Homo sapiens: one gene and its partner. The protein of the gene in region 2 binds, or shares a complex with, the protein of the main gene of each other region. Each region holds a gene or a part of one and is shown on either strand. Other genes may lie near its edges.

Region 1 (8,273 bases), on a different chromosome or scaffold from region 2:
AGGAAAAAACTTAACTAAAGCTTTATTATTATATATTGTCAATTACATTAACTTCTCCAGCTATGCTAGGTTTATCAGAACAATTAATTTTTCTGCCAAAAATGTAGCTAACATAGTACATTACTTAATTTCCCACTAATAGGATGCATGCATAATTCATATATGTAAAAAAGAGATAGGAACAATGCATTTGTTTATTTTTCTTTCTTTTATCTCCACATTCACATTTATTAAGTGAACCAGCTAAGGCACCTTGCTAAGACAAGTTATTAGAAGAATTTATGAAGTTGTATATTTGCAATAAGCTTATCTTACCGCCATGTCTTTTTCTGTCAAATTTCTGTCCTGTGACTCAGCTACCACAGTCACGTATCCATTAAAGGAAAACACAAATTTAACAGTTCTTTAACTTACTGATCTCATCTAACTAATGAACATCAAGCATGATGGACATACGTCGCCAGATAGCAGCTACAAGACACCAAATCTCTCATAGCCAGCTCTGGGAGCTGCATTATTTAGTAAGTCATGGAAGAGAGAAGTGCACCCTCAACCATAACCCCTGTTTGTGCTAGGTACTCAGCTTACAAGTTTACTCGTTAAAGGCTGATTGAAGCAGCTTTTGTTTCCAAATTCTATAGAAAAATAAACTCATCCTTAGTAAAAGGACCCATCTCAGAGTCCCAGAAAACTGTCTGGAGGATATGGGTAATTAGTATTTAACAAAAGAAGAAATTTGTTAAATATTTCATGGATTATCCCAAGCAGGCTGCGTACCAGACAATACCTGTTATTTAGGACAAAGCTGATGATCTGTCATATCAGCTTCTGCTACACCCACATACAGAATACATCTGTAATAAAAGAAGCATGCAAAATTTGCTCTCATGAAATTTCAAATATGAATCTCAGTGTGAATAATAAAAATAAAAACAAACTTTTAGAGTTTACTATTGAGAGCTGTCAAAGAATTATAAAACATAAATCCAGACTTCAGGGATTTACAGTCTGTTCAGATGCTCTGGTTCTCACCTTTTCTGTGCACCAACATCATCTGAGATGTCCTTAGCACTGCAGATTCTTAAGGGCCCACTCGGGGAGTTTCAGCTAGTTTCAAGGTCTGGAATTTGAACTGGGAACTGGCCTTCTTAGAAAGCACCAAGAGGTGATTCTGATGCCCGAAGCCTATGAACCCACAGTTAAAAAATAAAACTTAGGGGCCAGGCACGGTGGCTCATGCCTGTAATCCCAGCAGTTTGGGAGGCTGAGGTGGGAGGATCATGAGGTCAGAAGATTGAGACCATCCTGGCTAACACGGTGAAACCCCATCTCTACTAAAAAACAAAAAAATAGCCAGCATGGTGGCACGTGCCTGTAATACCAGCTACTCAGGAGGCTGAGGCAGGAGAATCGCTTGAACCTGGGAGGTGGACGTTGCAGTGAGCCGAGATCACACCACTATGCTCCAGTCTGGGTGACAGAGCAAGACTCTGTCTCAAATAAAATAAAATAAAATAAAACTAAAAAGTAAATAAAACTTAGCTACATCAACAGAAATATTAATGAACTGGAGAAGACACAACACCATTCATTAATTCAATACCTGCTTGAGGATTGCTTGCTATGGAGAAGAATAACAAGGAGAAGAAGGTGGAGATGGGGCTTACCCCAAAAAGGGGAAGAAATCTAGACTTATGAGAGAATGAAAATGAAGAAAATGACTACCAGCAAAAGCACAAAGGCATGGAAGGACTCATCAACATCAAGAACCCCAAGCAGGTAGGATAGACAACCAGAAAGGTCAAACAAGTGGATCTGGACAGGCTAAAGGAGCTTTTAAGGAGAAAATGCACTAGCAGGAGAGACAGAGCAAGCCAAGGTGGGCCTTGCCTGGCTGGTGATCATCTGGAAACAGTGGGAGAAGGCTGCAAGGAAGAAGGAAGTGGAGAGGAAAGCAAAATATGGTGCCACATTGTTGGGAAAATGAACATGGTTGCTCCCCTTGAATAAATAAACGCCACCTGCAGGAGGAGAGGCCAGGGACCTGGGCCAGAACCTCTGCTGTGTCTCACCTACCCTGTGCCCTGGCTCCACTGCAGCAGCCCTTCAAGGCCAGAAGCCCCATGGCCTGGGACATCCTCTTCATCTTGGCACAGAAATTGTTTAGGGAGGTGTCTGGGGGCGAGTGGGGAGAGAGTGGAGGAGGGACAGCTGTCATCTCTGAGATAGAAAGGTGCAGGAAAGCATTTCATATGTAACAATTTGAATGTTTTTTGCTGTTTTTAGAATTCAGAACCCTTGTTGGAGTGCCTAAGAAGTGGGGTAAGAAGAGCTTCCATTTGTCTGCTAGATCACATGTTAGTGGGTGGTTGTGCCAGGAGGCAGCTGCTGAGGGGTTTGCAACAACCACCCTGGTCTGTGTGCCTGAATGCTTATTCAGAATGGGGCTGTCAGCTGCAGGCTCATGCCCTTGGGTCCCTGAGGGTCATGGCTTTGTCCCTGGCGAGTCCTCTCTGACCTGACTCAATGGAACGAAGGAAGAAAGGAGAATTGCCCAGATGCTTTCTTTGGGTGATGCTGTTTTTGTTAAATTTCTTCCCCAGAAGTCCCTGACTATCTTTCAGTGTCCAAAAATATAATATATAGCCAAACTTACGTGTTTTGAGTCTGAGAGATTAACTATTTTTTCTCTGGGCACATTGCTGCCCCAGATTAAATTGTTTCTTAGTTAGAAAAACAAATGAATAACTAGAGATTCTAGCAGCAGTGTCTGTCACTAAGCGCTAGCCTGAATTTGTTGATGATGCTGTGATTCTATGCTAATTTAATGTATATTACTTAAAAGAAATAGGGAGAGAGAGGCAAAATAGTGTCCTGTCAGAAACTATCAAAGAGAAGCATGTATGTGTAGAAAAAATTATGAAAGAAGTGGTTTTTCTTAGGAAAATCTTACCTTTTTTCTACATGTCCCAGTCCCTACCAGATGTTCCCTTTTGTCTGCCTAGAGACCTGCCAGATTTCTCCAAATAATCCTGACTTCCTGGATACACCCACATAGAAACAGGTCGGGTTCTAGAAGAATTTGTCTGCTCCATGTTCCATCAGAATCAGATTATCTCATTATTTTGGAACAAGTTAATCTGCTGCAGATGAATTAATGAATGCTGCTGAGTTAGCTATTATCATTTTTTTCCTACATATTCTTAAAGGTATGTTTTAACCCAAAGACCCATAGTGACCAATGGCTCACTCTATGGCTGAGCTACACTTTAATTATCACTGTGCGTCAGGTTCCATACATATAAAAATAAACCTAATATTTAATTCAAAGTCATTTGTGAGGGGTTGGGACACCTGAGAATTTTGGATAATGATCATGAACATAGAGTCCAGATTCAAACCAAATGGCTTCAAATTCCTACTCAAACACTAGTATATGACATTAGATGCATTATTTAATATATCCAAACATTAGTTTCCTCACTTGAAAATTGGGATGATAATAGTATGTTCTAACTATACTGTTGTGAGATGAACAAAATAAATGAAATCACGCTCATAAAGAACTTAGGATAGTGCTTGGTATGAAGCAAGTGATCAGCGGATGTCAGCTTTTATTAGCAGTATTTAAGTATAGTTATTTGCAACCAAAAAGTGCTTAGCGATATCAGTTATCATCTTCTACAAATTATAGGAGACCACAGCTTCTGAGATAATTTTATTTTATTTTACATATAGTAAGCTATATACTATTTCAAATAAGTAAAGTCTTTCTCTTCGCAGACTCTAATTGCAGAGTCTAATTTGATTCTTATTTGGTCATCTAATAGCTCTTTGTTCCAAACTGGGGTTTTTATATATAAGGGGTTCAGTGATATACTACTAAAGACAATGTTGATTTTTTTGCATAAAGGAATTCAATAGCAGAAATGCATTTTAATATAATAAATTAAATCTTACAACTTTAATCAATGAATTTTCATATATAAAAATGACCATAAATTATATAAATAACTGCAGTGCTTAGCCAGTATTCAAACTGTAGGTTTCAGAAATCTTGTTTGAAAGCTTAAAATATAGGGCAGTTATGATATGGTATTTGGAGACGATACAGGGTGTGATATAAAGGTTCGACTACAAGGCTAATGTTATAAACTGGTCACATTTTGAACTGCAAATTCTGGTGACTTAATTATTTTTCCAAGAGTTTGCCAAAGTCAATAAAGAACAATTAGCTCAACATCTATGAACTTAAAAAGGACTTAGACATTCTGCTATATTAAAAAGACTAAATGCAGTACTTATCTTGGTGTGTTTCTTGTTTCTACTCTGGGAAGATTAAAAAACAGATAACTTTAGAAATTACAGACCTGTCAGCATCAGTATTTAGTTGAAAACTTACTGAAACATATCATCAAAAAATCAATTTTCAAGCACCTAGAAAATCATGAGTTACTGGGTAAAATCTCCTTGGCACTGTGAAAAATAAATCCTGTCAAATCAACTTAATTTCCTTCCACGACAGAGTGACAAAAACAGTAGACACAGAGAACTGGATAGACAAAATATATCCTGACCAAAGTCAGGCAAATTCCACATAACACAGAGAGAAAATACAGTTTGGGTGACATTTTGTCTTTATTAAGTACTCCTATTGAATAACTATGCTGAACATATCTGGAAGTGATACTCAGCTGGAATATTGAACATGTAAGGTGACTGGTTAGATATAAAGATGAGAGCATTCAAGACCAAGTTGTGGCAGGGCTGATTCTCACTATTTTAAACAAAATATTATCGGTAATTATGAGAAACCAAGTAAGAATCAGCATCATTTTGCTACTTCTGTTTTTTTAAAAAAGCAAGATCCCCAACAGAAAAGGATGTGTAGAACTGTAATGCCCACATAATGTTGCGATGGGACTACTGTTGGCACATTTGGGGTTTGGAGGCCCAGGAGAGTGAAGATGAATGGCATGAAATGAGGCATGCCTTTGAGTCAATGCTTCTGACCAGTGAGGGATCCATTTTTACTTCTGAGTCCAAATGTTTTTCCCACAAGAAAAGGTTAATGTATCCCTCTCATCTCCAAAGACTCATTTAACAAAATGACTCGTTTAACAAAATGAAAACAGCATGGACAAATAAGAGAGTGACATTTTTAAGAAACATTGGTATAGTTCCTAAGCAGAAAACCAGAAATCTGTGTGTGCATTAAAATAATAAACCACTTAGTAAAAATAATAATTGATTTTAAAGTGAATTTTGAGGAATCCCTTTAGCAGATATTCAAAGTATTTGGAAATAATGATAAATAACCTGATTTCAGTACATTATCATCCCATCCTAGAAGCTTGTAACAGTGGGAGACAGATGAAGATAGTGAGATTTCAAAGAAAGGGTAGTAGACACTATATCAACAATAAAGTATTTCCTTAGACAAGAGCTTGAAAATAATTTTCATCTCATGTGCCAACTCTAATTTTTAGTTGCCACCTGAGTAGGCTTGAGAAGTTGCACTAGGCCCACTCTAAAGAATAAAGAAGTGCACCAACCATTCAATTTGATGGGGGTGAGATATTTTGCCCATTCCCATGAAGACACAGACAGCAAGTTTATACTGGAGCCTAACTATAGTATTTATATTTGACTACATAATAAATCCATAGCAAGTAGTTGTTCTTGAATATTTGTTTATTCATTCTCAGCTAGGCTTTGGTATCTTTATTAGGACTTAAATTAAAAACTTTCTCCAGGTGTTGTTATACATATCTGATCTGGGTAAACCTACCTGGTTGCTGAAGTTCAGATTCTAATGCACTGAATGTCAACCAGGACCTTTTAGGGAATTGCGTCTTAACAACACTTATTTCTGTTGGGCTGTGCTAAATCATCTAGTCTCAACAATTATTAGATGCTTAGACTTCTCCTACAATACACATGTGGATGGGCCCTCCAGACTGGGTTGGCACATTATTGTAAGAGACTCACTTGTATTTATTAATTCATCAACTTGACACACATGAGATCCAAAATCAACTGGGAAAAAAGTCACTAGTTATTGAATTAAATCCCATGCAGTCTTTTATTCCCCAGGACCTTATATTTTGGTGTGACATTCCAGTGAATTAATTTCTGACTATAATTCATTGTTGAAAGGCTTGGCAGAGGAGTTGTGGAAGTCCAAAGCAAGGGTTTTGAATAAGCTCTCATTTGAAAAATTATATTTCTTGCATTAAACCCAAAATATCTCTGTAATTTTCCCTTTGAGCCTGTTCTAAGCCTTGAGGCCATATAAAACAAGTCTAATCCTTCTTCCACATGAACAAACAATCTTTAAATATTTGAATAAAATTCTAATGGGTCTCTTAAATTTTCTTTTTCTATTCAAGCAAACCATCCACAAATGTACCCTAATATAAATGCTTTTAATTCTTCTAGTCATCATAGTTCTAACCTGTTCACCATCAACAACCAGAATTAGTCATGTATTCTCTCAGCACTTTATAAATTGCTTATTTCTATTCCTTTAATAGACTGAGAAATGTTAAAAGACAGTTAATATTTTGATTCATTTGTGATCTCCTGCATATTTTACATGGGGCCAAAATCAATTGACTTTAACTGAACATAAGGGAAAAGGTTTTAAAAAAATTTGGAAAATAAACATTTGATACCAGATTGTTTGGGAGTATACAGCAATTGCAGTGGCAAGTACAGATTCTTAGGAAAATAAGATATATTGAAGTCCTATTGAAGTCTTTATTGCTAATGCCATGTTTTTACTAGGATTGCTTTCTAACTAACTGTTAAGTAGATTGCAATAGCCCAGAGTGATATTCTGAATATTTAACAACTAGTATCAGATGGACATAATCCTAGTATTAAAGCAGCATCCTGGAAGCATTGACTATATCTTGGGAAAGTTTCGGAGTCACAAGGAGGACATTTACAAAGAATTTCAAAATTATTTTTGATATTTTAAAAATCAGTAAGGCAATCACGGTGACTAATGGCTGAGTAACAGCCTTTGAAACAGAATTTTAGCATTAGTGATTTTAATGGAAGCCCTGAATCAAAATCTCACATTGTCCAGGTCATAAAGGGAAAATGACCCGTTCAAGTTCACAGGATTAGTGACAGAGATAGTATTCAAAATGGCTAAGAATGCCTTAATATTTTCTGCAGCTTGACTATACTTTACAGACTTCTTACTATTGACCCCTGACTCCCTTAGAATATCTACTTTAGAAAACTTTCGATTGCAAATTTTTTGACTCTCTGAATCTTCTCCCAGCTTCTTGCCAATTTTATAACCCAGAAAAGTTTTCTCAAGGACCTACCCTGATGCAGTCATTACACACTGCAGGCTTGTGTCAAAACATCACATGTATCCCATAAATAACATACAACTATTATGTAGTCATATTAAAATATTTTTTAAAAAAATCAAGAAAGATAGCATTCCCATCTCCCAGTCTCTATGGGAAGGTAAGAGCCCAACTTCAGTAAGTGTCAATTAGTAAACACAGATGGCCTAGTCACACTGACCACCTCCCCACTAATGTCCTCCAGTACTTTTCCACCAGTTCACCCCACTATAAAACTCTACCAACTTTTGTTTCAGCAGAGATGCTTTCAATCTCTCTTCCCTAAAGTGATGTCTTAAATAAATCCTTTCTTGCCTGTTCAACTTGTCGAGTGCAATTTTTCTCTGATAGAACCCCCTACATCTTCAAACTCTTGAGCTTTTTTTTTTTTTTTTTTTTTTTTTACAGAGTCTCATTCTGTCACTCAGGCTAGAGTGCAGTGGCGTGACCTCAGCTCACTAAAACCTCTGCCTTCCAGGTTCAAGCGATTCTTATGCCTCAGCCTCCGCTGTAGCTGGGTTTACAGGTGCCTGCCACCAGGCCCAGCTAATTTTTGTATTTTCAGTAGAGATGGGGCTTCACCATGTTGGCTAGGCTGGTCTCAAACTCCTGATCTCAAGTGATCCACCCACCTCGGTCTCCCAAAGTGCTGGGATTACAGGCGTGAGCCACCACACCCGGCGGAAAATCTTGAACTTTTTCTATGATACCATATTTCTTCCTGTTGGTAACTGGAGCTACTCCATAAAGGACAGGGGAAAGAAAGAAAGTCATCACTTTCTTTGCCCATTAAAATATAAATCATATGTCCCCAAAATCCATTTATAAATTGTAGAGTTTCTATCTCAAACTTCAGTGTGCCTAAGAATTTCTCAGGATGTTTTTGAAAATGTAGATTTCCAA
Region 2 (7,279 bases):
ATACAGTTATGCACGGGACAAGAAAGAGTTCTTTGAACTCATAAAATGATTAGTGATACTATCAATTCAGGTGGTATTTTAATATGTCTAAAATTCATGGAAGATAATTCAAATTCAATCTTCCTTGAATGAAAAGGATACATATATATGTAAGTATATGAAAGCATAGGCTCAACTTAAGAGGCCGTGTTGAAATTTAGTAAATATCTAAATCTACATGAAACATGTTTCAGAAATCACCTGGTAATGTTTAAAATGATTAAGGGTGAAAACCATGCAGACTGTCATAAAGAAACAGTACCTAAATATCTCAGATATCATCTATGTCTTAGTATCTGTGGATTTCATGTAAGTAACAATGCCAATATTAGTCCAGACCCAAAACAGTTAAATTGGAAGTTCACTGAGACAGGCTACCTCTAAATAAAATTCAAAAATAGTTCTTAAGACAGAGAGCTAACAGCTAAAAGGCTTGTACTCTGGAGGTGGAAAATGTCGAGATCTTTAAATGTTAGAGAATCATATCTTGGTTTGACAGATCTAGCTAATCTTAAAAGGGCAACTTTCCATTTGAATACTAAGCAGGAGTTTATGGCCCAACCTCATGCAGATACAGAACTATGCATTTATTGTTTGCTAGAAGAGGCTGTGGGATGCTAAGAGAAGAAATGATATACTGTAATACTCTGGGATTTTCCTCAGGTAAGAAGCTTAACATGATTAAAGATGAACACTTTTGTTTTTCAAAGGGACTCTAATCAAAATGGCACAGTTATTTCACTGTAGTCTATAGAATTGCACACTACAGAATATTTATAATATTAAACCACAGTACATCGATGGGTGCATTTTAAATATTATCATTGGAAAGAGAAGCAATGAATATTTTATACTTCTCTCCCAACCTAATTCATCTACCAGGCTAACACAGGCTCTCACCATGAAAGATCAGAAGAACACATTCATCCACTCTCATCCACACCTTAAGCCTAGGTCCTCCTTACACTTTATTCAAGAGACAGCTCCATGGTGCTACAGAGGTTTTATTGCACTCATATTCTGTAGACTTTTTATGCTTTTATTTTGAAGTATACTTTACTATTGCATTCTCTTACCTCTCCTACACTTTCTTCACAAACGCTGACCCACACTGATATTCTCTGGATGCTGCATAATGACCAAGTGACCCACAGATGAGTCTAATCAAGGCAATTCTGCTTGGATTACTTAAAGGGAAGGTGCTCTTTCCAAGGATAAGGTGAAAAGATAAGTCAGAGTAAGGGATTTAAAGAACGAATCCTTTTTACTTCCTCAAGAAACTAAATGTAACGGAAAGGCACAGTAGCTTATGCCTGTAATCCCAGCACTTTGGGAGGCTGAAGCGGGAGGATCACTTGAGGTCAGGTGTTTGAGACCAGCCTGGCCGACATGGTGAAACCCCATCTCTACTAAAAATAAAAACAATAAAAATAAATGGCCAGGTGTGGTGGTGTGTGCCTGTAATCCCAGCTACTCGGGAGGCTGAGACAGAAGAATCACTTGAATCTGGGAGGCAGTTGCGGTGAGCTGAGATTACGCCACTGCACTCCAGCCTAGGCAACAAAGCAAGACTCTGTCTCAAAAAAAAAAAAGAAACTCAATGTACTAAATATACATGGGAGAATATCAAATTGGTAAGGAGAGCAATTATCCACAGCAAATGTCAAACACTCAATGGAAAAAACAATTTATCCGTAATATTAAGCACCTTAATGTTAGAAGGACCCTTCCAACAGAAGAGGACCCCTCCCCCCAGTCTAAAGGTTACTGGAAGCTAAGTTATTTCACAATTTATAGTGAAGATGTGTGATTTGTTTTCGTTTCTGCTGGAAGAAGCAGAAGGTAAAACAGGCTGGAAAGAAGAAATGGGCAGAAGCGTGTCTGATAAAAAGCTTAGAGATGTGACTGACATCGGTTAAAAATGAACTGGTACTATTTGCCTTTTCAAATCTAATCCTTCACTTAAGCTGCCAAATAAATGTTCTGGGGCCTTTAATCATTGTATCAGGGAAAAATTTCTTTCTTCCAACTTGTGGAGAGGTACTGAAATGTATCCTTTCTCTGCAAAATTTAATAGAGTTAAAATTCTCTTCAAAGAGATGAAATCTAACCCTAGGTTTCATTAAAATGACCTAGCTCTTCTTCATTGTGATATATCAAAATGAAACACTGCTTCAGAGTCAAGGGGAACAAGGATACAGTTTTTGTTCTGAAAGTTAGATCTTTGATATATGATGAAATAGCATTTCAATAAAGTGAAGAATAAAAGGAAAAAAGCCATCAGTTGAGTAAAGAACTAAAAACATTTGTCTATAGTTTTGGTTTGCTTTTAGAAAAGATAATTAATGCTGTAGAGAACTTACTGAACTAATATTCTGCTGATTTTTCTTCACTCGTTCGATCTCTGGGCTATCTTTCACTGCAGTGCCAGCTCCCACTTCTTTCTTATAAAATACCTTTATTATAAGAAAAGGAAAAGAATAACTAAGCTTGTCAGAATTCAAGTCCTAGATCCGCTTCTTAGAAAGACAATTTCTCAGGTTTTATAATAATATGAATACTGCATCTATTTATGAGTGCCGGAATTATAGGAACAAATTAAATAATCCATTCAGATAATCCATGAAAACTTTGGTTTTATATCCCATAATCTCACAAATAACCCTCTCCTGCTCTAGGTCTAGACCACTACCATGGCTGACTGCAGATTATTTGCTTTAAGAATACACATTGGCAAACCAGAGTTCCTTTCTTCAAATATAAATATATGTCCCATGTGTATTTGAGAAAAAGCAGATATTACAAAAGCCCATTAAGCCGTTATCACTGAATTCAAAAAGAAAATGACATTTTAGGCAACTTCTATGCTCCAAACACAAGGATGCCCACATTCTCTTCCAAGAAAATGTTAGCTCATCATCAATATCAATGTTAATTTCAAGTCTATCTTCTTCATCTTCCACTTATTTGTTAACCCTCTCCCATGTGTCTCCACCCCTACTAACGTCTACCCTTCCAAACCCAAAGCAGAACAAAAACACAAGAGTATTTATGAGTGCCCTCGTTATGAGTACTCTGCAGAAAAACAGAGTAATTATAAGAAAGGTAAATGAGGATAGAATTACTCCCTTTCTTGACATTTGGTAATCCAGTGGCCCCCGCGTGGGTGGGAGAGCACGGTAGGAGAGATGTTTTCCTCCAAAGGCTAGAACTACAGAACACTATAGAATCACACAGCCTCTTTTCCTCATCCTTCCATCAAGACTTTCCCATTTCTCAGTACAGCCTGGCCATCCCTGTGGAGACCCAGCAGACATCTGACCAGCTTACTCTGAGAGCTGGCGCTTGCCAACTAATTAGGAGGTAGGAAATATTCCAGAAGTCCTCACACTTACTAGAATTTATATTTTGATGAGATGCTTCCTTAACTATTAATGACTGAGCTAATTCTATGTTAAAATATTAGTTGTATGGTCAATTTTTACAATTTTAGAACAGAAGTCAAGTTTATACATTTATTAATGGACTCAGCCTCTTAATTAATAGTGCTGATGCACTATTTACAATAGGAAAGACATGGAATCAACCTGAATGCCCATCAATGATAGACTGGATAAAGAAAATGTGGTACATATACACCACAGAATACCATGCAGTCATAAAAAAGAATGAGATCATGGCCTTTGCAGGGACATGGATGGAGCTAGATGCCATTATACTTAGCAAACTAATGCAGGAACAGAAAACCAAATACCGCATTTTCTCACTTATAAGTGGGAGCTAAATGATGAGAACACATGGACACACAGAGGCGAACAACACACACAGGGGCCTATCAGAGGGTGAAGAAGGAGGGGAGGGAGAGGATCAGAAAAAATAACTAATGGGTACTAGGCTTAACACCTGCGTGACAAAATAATCGTACAACAAACCCCTATGACACAAGTTTACCTATGTAAAAACCTGCACAGGTACCCCCAAACTTAAAATAAAAGTTAAAAAAAAAAGTGCTGATGCAATTCCTCTTCCTCAAAATAAAAATATAGAAGTTTAGAAATTTATTAAGAATGAGTAAATGGTTAGACATATTATCAGTAAAAACAATCAATAACCAGGAATAAAATCACTTCATATGACTATTTTCACCTTCAAAGTAAAATCTGTGTAGAAGACAGACTTCTTTCCTGAGTTAAATTTTAAAATTTAGTTAATAACTGTCATTTATACCGAAGAGGAAATTTTGAATTTGTAATTCCAAAAAAATAATGAAAAATGATAATTTGTAAAAATTATCAGTATTCTTATTATTTTAAAGAAATAAAGATAATACACTTGACAGAAAATTCAACTAAGACAGCAGAAAACATCAGACAATGAGGAAAAAAGACCATTTCTTACAAAACAAAATTTCAAGGTGGCAACTTAAAAGAAGTAATGGCTACTCACCGCACTAATGTTTTGTTGAGTTGTCTTAATTCTCTGAATTTCAGGAGTATCTGCTATGGTAGAATAGTTAGAAAGCATCTTCTCTGCTTCATCTTTATACTTTCTCTAAAAACATAAACAGTTAATATAAATCTGAAACTATGTGTGTGCGCACATGTGAGAGGGAGGGAGGGAGGCAGGAAAGGAGGAAGGGAGAGAGAGAGAGTAAAAAACTGTTTTTACTGACTTACACTCCCAGAGAGAGAGAGAGAGAGGTGGAGAGACAGAGATAGAATGATACCATTCTTCGATCTCTACCATACGACATGGCTTCTAGATTTACGCTTTGCTTCCTACTTCATGTGAAGATAGATTTGATTAAGGGAAAGTTAACAGTATTTTGAAGTTGAGATTAAAATCTTAATTTTCTCTCCACTAAATGAGCTACTATGAGCTCTAATACAACCCAGGCAATATCTTATCCTAGTACCAGCACTTACATTGTACTTACTATGTAATGGGTATTGTTCTAAATACTTAACACACACTAACTCATTTAATCAACCTGACAAGCAGATACTATTATTATTTCCATCTTACAGATGGAGAAACTGAAGTACTAGATAGTAAGTATCAGAGCCTCAACTTAAAACCAGGCTCTCTGATTCCAAAATCAGTGAAGTTAATTATTCTGGCAAACTACTTAAGAAAATGTGGCACATATACACCATGGAATACTATGCAGCCATAAAAAATGATGAGTTCATGTCCTTTGTAGGGACATGGATGAAATTGGAAATCATCATTCTCAGTAAACTATTGCAAGAACAAAAAACCAAACACTGCATATTCTCACTCATAGGTGGGAATTGAACAATGAGAACACATGGACACAGGAAGGGGAACATCACACTCTGGGGACTGTTGTGGGGTAGGGGGAGGGGGGAGGGATAGCATTAGGAGATATACCTAATGCTAGATGACGAGTTAGTGGGTGCAGCGCACCAGCATAGCACATGTATACATATGTAACTAACCTGCACATTGTACACATGTACCCTGAAACTTAAAGTATAATAATAATAAAATTAAAAAAAAAGAAAGGTAACTACTATTCATGTTGAAATGCACCAGGCTTCATTACACCCTCGTAAGTATCCCAATTGTATTTCAGTGATTAAAATCCCTTAAAATTAGATATATTCTCACACCACACTAAAAAAAAATCTATGCTGTTGAGTTAATGCAGGAAATCTGACAGCTCAGGCACCTTCACTCTCAATACTTTTACTTTCAGGTGTATATATCATGGTTGTAATACTATATTTACATGATTATTAGATTTATCTGTAGCTTTCCAAGAGCAAAGCCATGTCTAGTTTTGCCTGCAAATGGGTGCTCAGGAGGTATTTACCTACTGAAGGAATGAATTTGGCATTCTTGAGAGAGTAAGTAACTCTTCTCCACTGACTCAAATGTCTATTTGTTGTTTAATGCATTGACTTAGGATTTTAGTTAAGCTGATATGGCCAAGCCAATGTCTCCAAGTTCACGAACACTGAGAACAGAACACACACTTCAGGATCATCCCAGCGGCTGTGTCGGCTGCGGAGGCTGAGAGGCACACAAGTCCTCTGACATTTGACTCTGCCATCTTGATACTACCCTTTTGAACTAGTGGATGGTTAATGTCCTTGCTTATGTCTTAATCAGAATTTTAACAAATTTCACCAAATGTTGTTACACAATCCTTTCTGCATAAACTCCATTAATCAAATTAAATGCTATGGTCAATTTTAAATAACCATTTTCATTTTTTTCATTCCTTCTATTTTTTTCCATTGGGAGTCATTCTTTTTTAGTAAATGTTACAGCAAAGATATTATTTGCTAATGAATGTTTTTGCCCAAGTCAGATTTTATAAATAAATTCTTCTTCCATAAATTTTTGTGGTCACTACTTCTCCCACATCCAGCTTTGTTTACAGAATATGGGACAAGTATATTTGACAAATCTAAATTTTACCAAGAAAACCTCACTGTTCCCTTAATTTTTACCTAACACTAAACTTCACTTTATACCTTGTGCAGCTTTAGCCACTGTTAGCTTTATTTGGAACTATTTTAATATTAATATTCATTATGAAATGGTTAAAAGACAAAACGTTTGTAATTTATTTTTCTGTAGTATTAGCAAAAGCATTTGAGCCAAGTGTCCAATAGGGTCAAAAAAAAAAAAAGAAAGAAAGAAAAGGTTAAAATATCCTTGGGCTGGGCACAATGGCTCATGCCCACTGAGGCAGGAAGATAAGCTTGAGCCCAGGAGTTTGAGGCTGCAGCAAGCTATGATGGTGCCACTGCATTCCAGCCTGGGTGAAAGAGTGAGACCTCCATCTCTAAAATTTAAAAAAAAAAAAAAAAAAAAAAAGGTTTAATGTCCTTGGACTCAAAACAAGGAGCCCCGACAGAGAGGCTGTAGCTCTCCATAATGTCTGTTGCATTGAATCTATGACTGTTGTCCTATTAATTAGTACGGTTAATCAAGTTTGGCCAATGGTTTCTTAGTGAAAGAGTACACTAGCTCTGAATGCAATGCCCTCAGAAAGATATCATTCATAGAGACATACAAAGCACATGGCAACATGACATTGGAATACACGATTCTGAGCATCTTCATTCATGACCAACCTGGCTATAGATTTCAGATGTCCTCTTGGCTCGAAGGATATCTGGGATATCCATGCTCACTTGCATTCCTTTCCCTTTAATTTCATTTTCTAAGTCCTTCTTGTATTGTTTCTAAAAGAACAGAAAAT

What was found.
Region 1: the proteins of NEBL (region 2) and XIRP2 are in contact, whole or in part, in a crystal structure (PDB 4F14), measured with the Homo sapiens proteins. Residues at the interface, in NP_006384.1 of Homo sapiens: Tyr963, Asp964, Tyr965, Asp969, Asp971, Glu972, Ile987, Asp988, Asp989, Gly990, Trp991, Met1004, Pro1006, Asn1008, Tyr1009; in NP_689594.4 of Homo sapiens: Pro2420, Pro2421, Pro2422, Thr2423, Leu2424, Pro2425, Lys2426, Pro2427.

The regions. Positions count from the first base shown.
Region 1 is NC_000002.12:166,883,238-166,891,510, reverse strand, and holds the start of XIRP2 (xin actin-binding repeat-containing protein 2), read right to left. Parts: upstream 3,032-8,273; 5' UTR 2,954-3,031; intron 1-2,953.
Region 2 is NC_000010.11:20,824,045-20,831,323, forward strand, and holds part of NEBL (nebulette), read right to left. Parts: intron 7,263-7,279; coding exon 7,152-7,262; intron 4,591-7,151; coding exon 4,486-4,590; intron 2,496-4,485; coding exon 2,403-2,495; intron 1-2,402. UniProt on the Homo sapiens protein: Binds to actin and plays an important role in the assembly of the Z-disk. May functionally link sarcomeric actin to the desmin intermediate filaments in the heart muscle sarcomeres.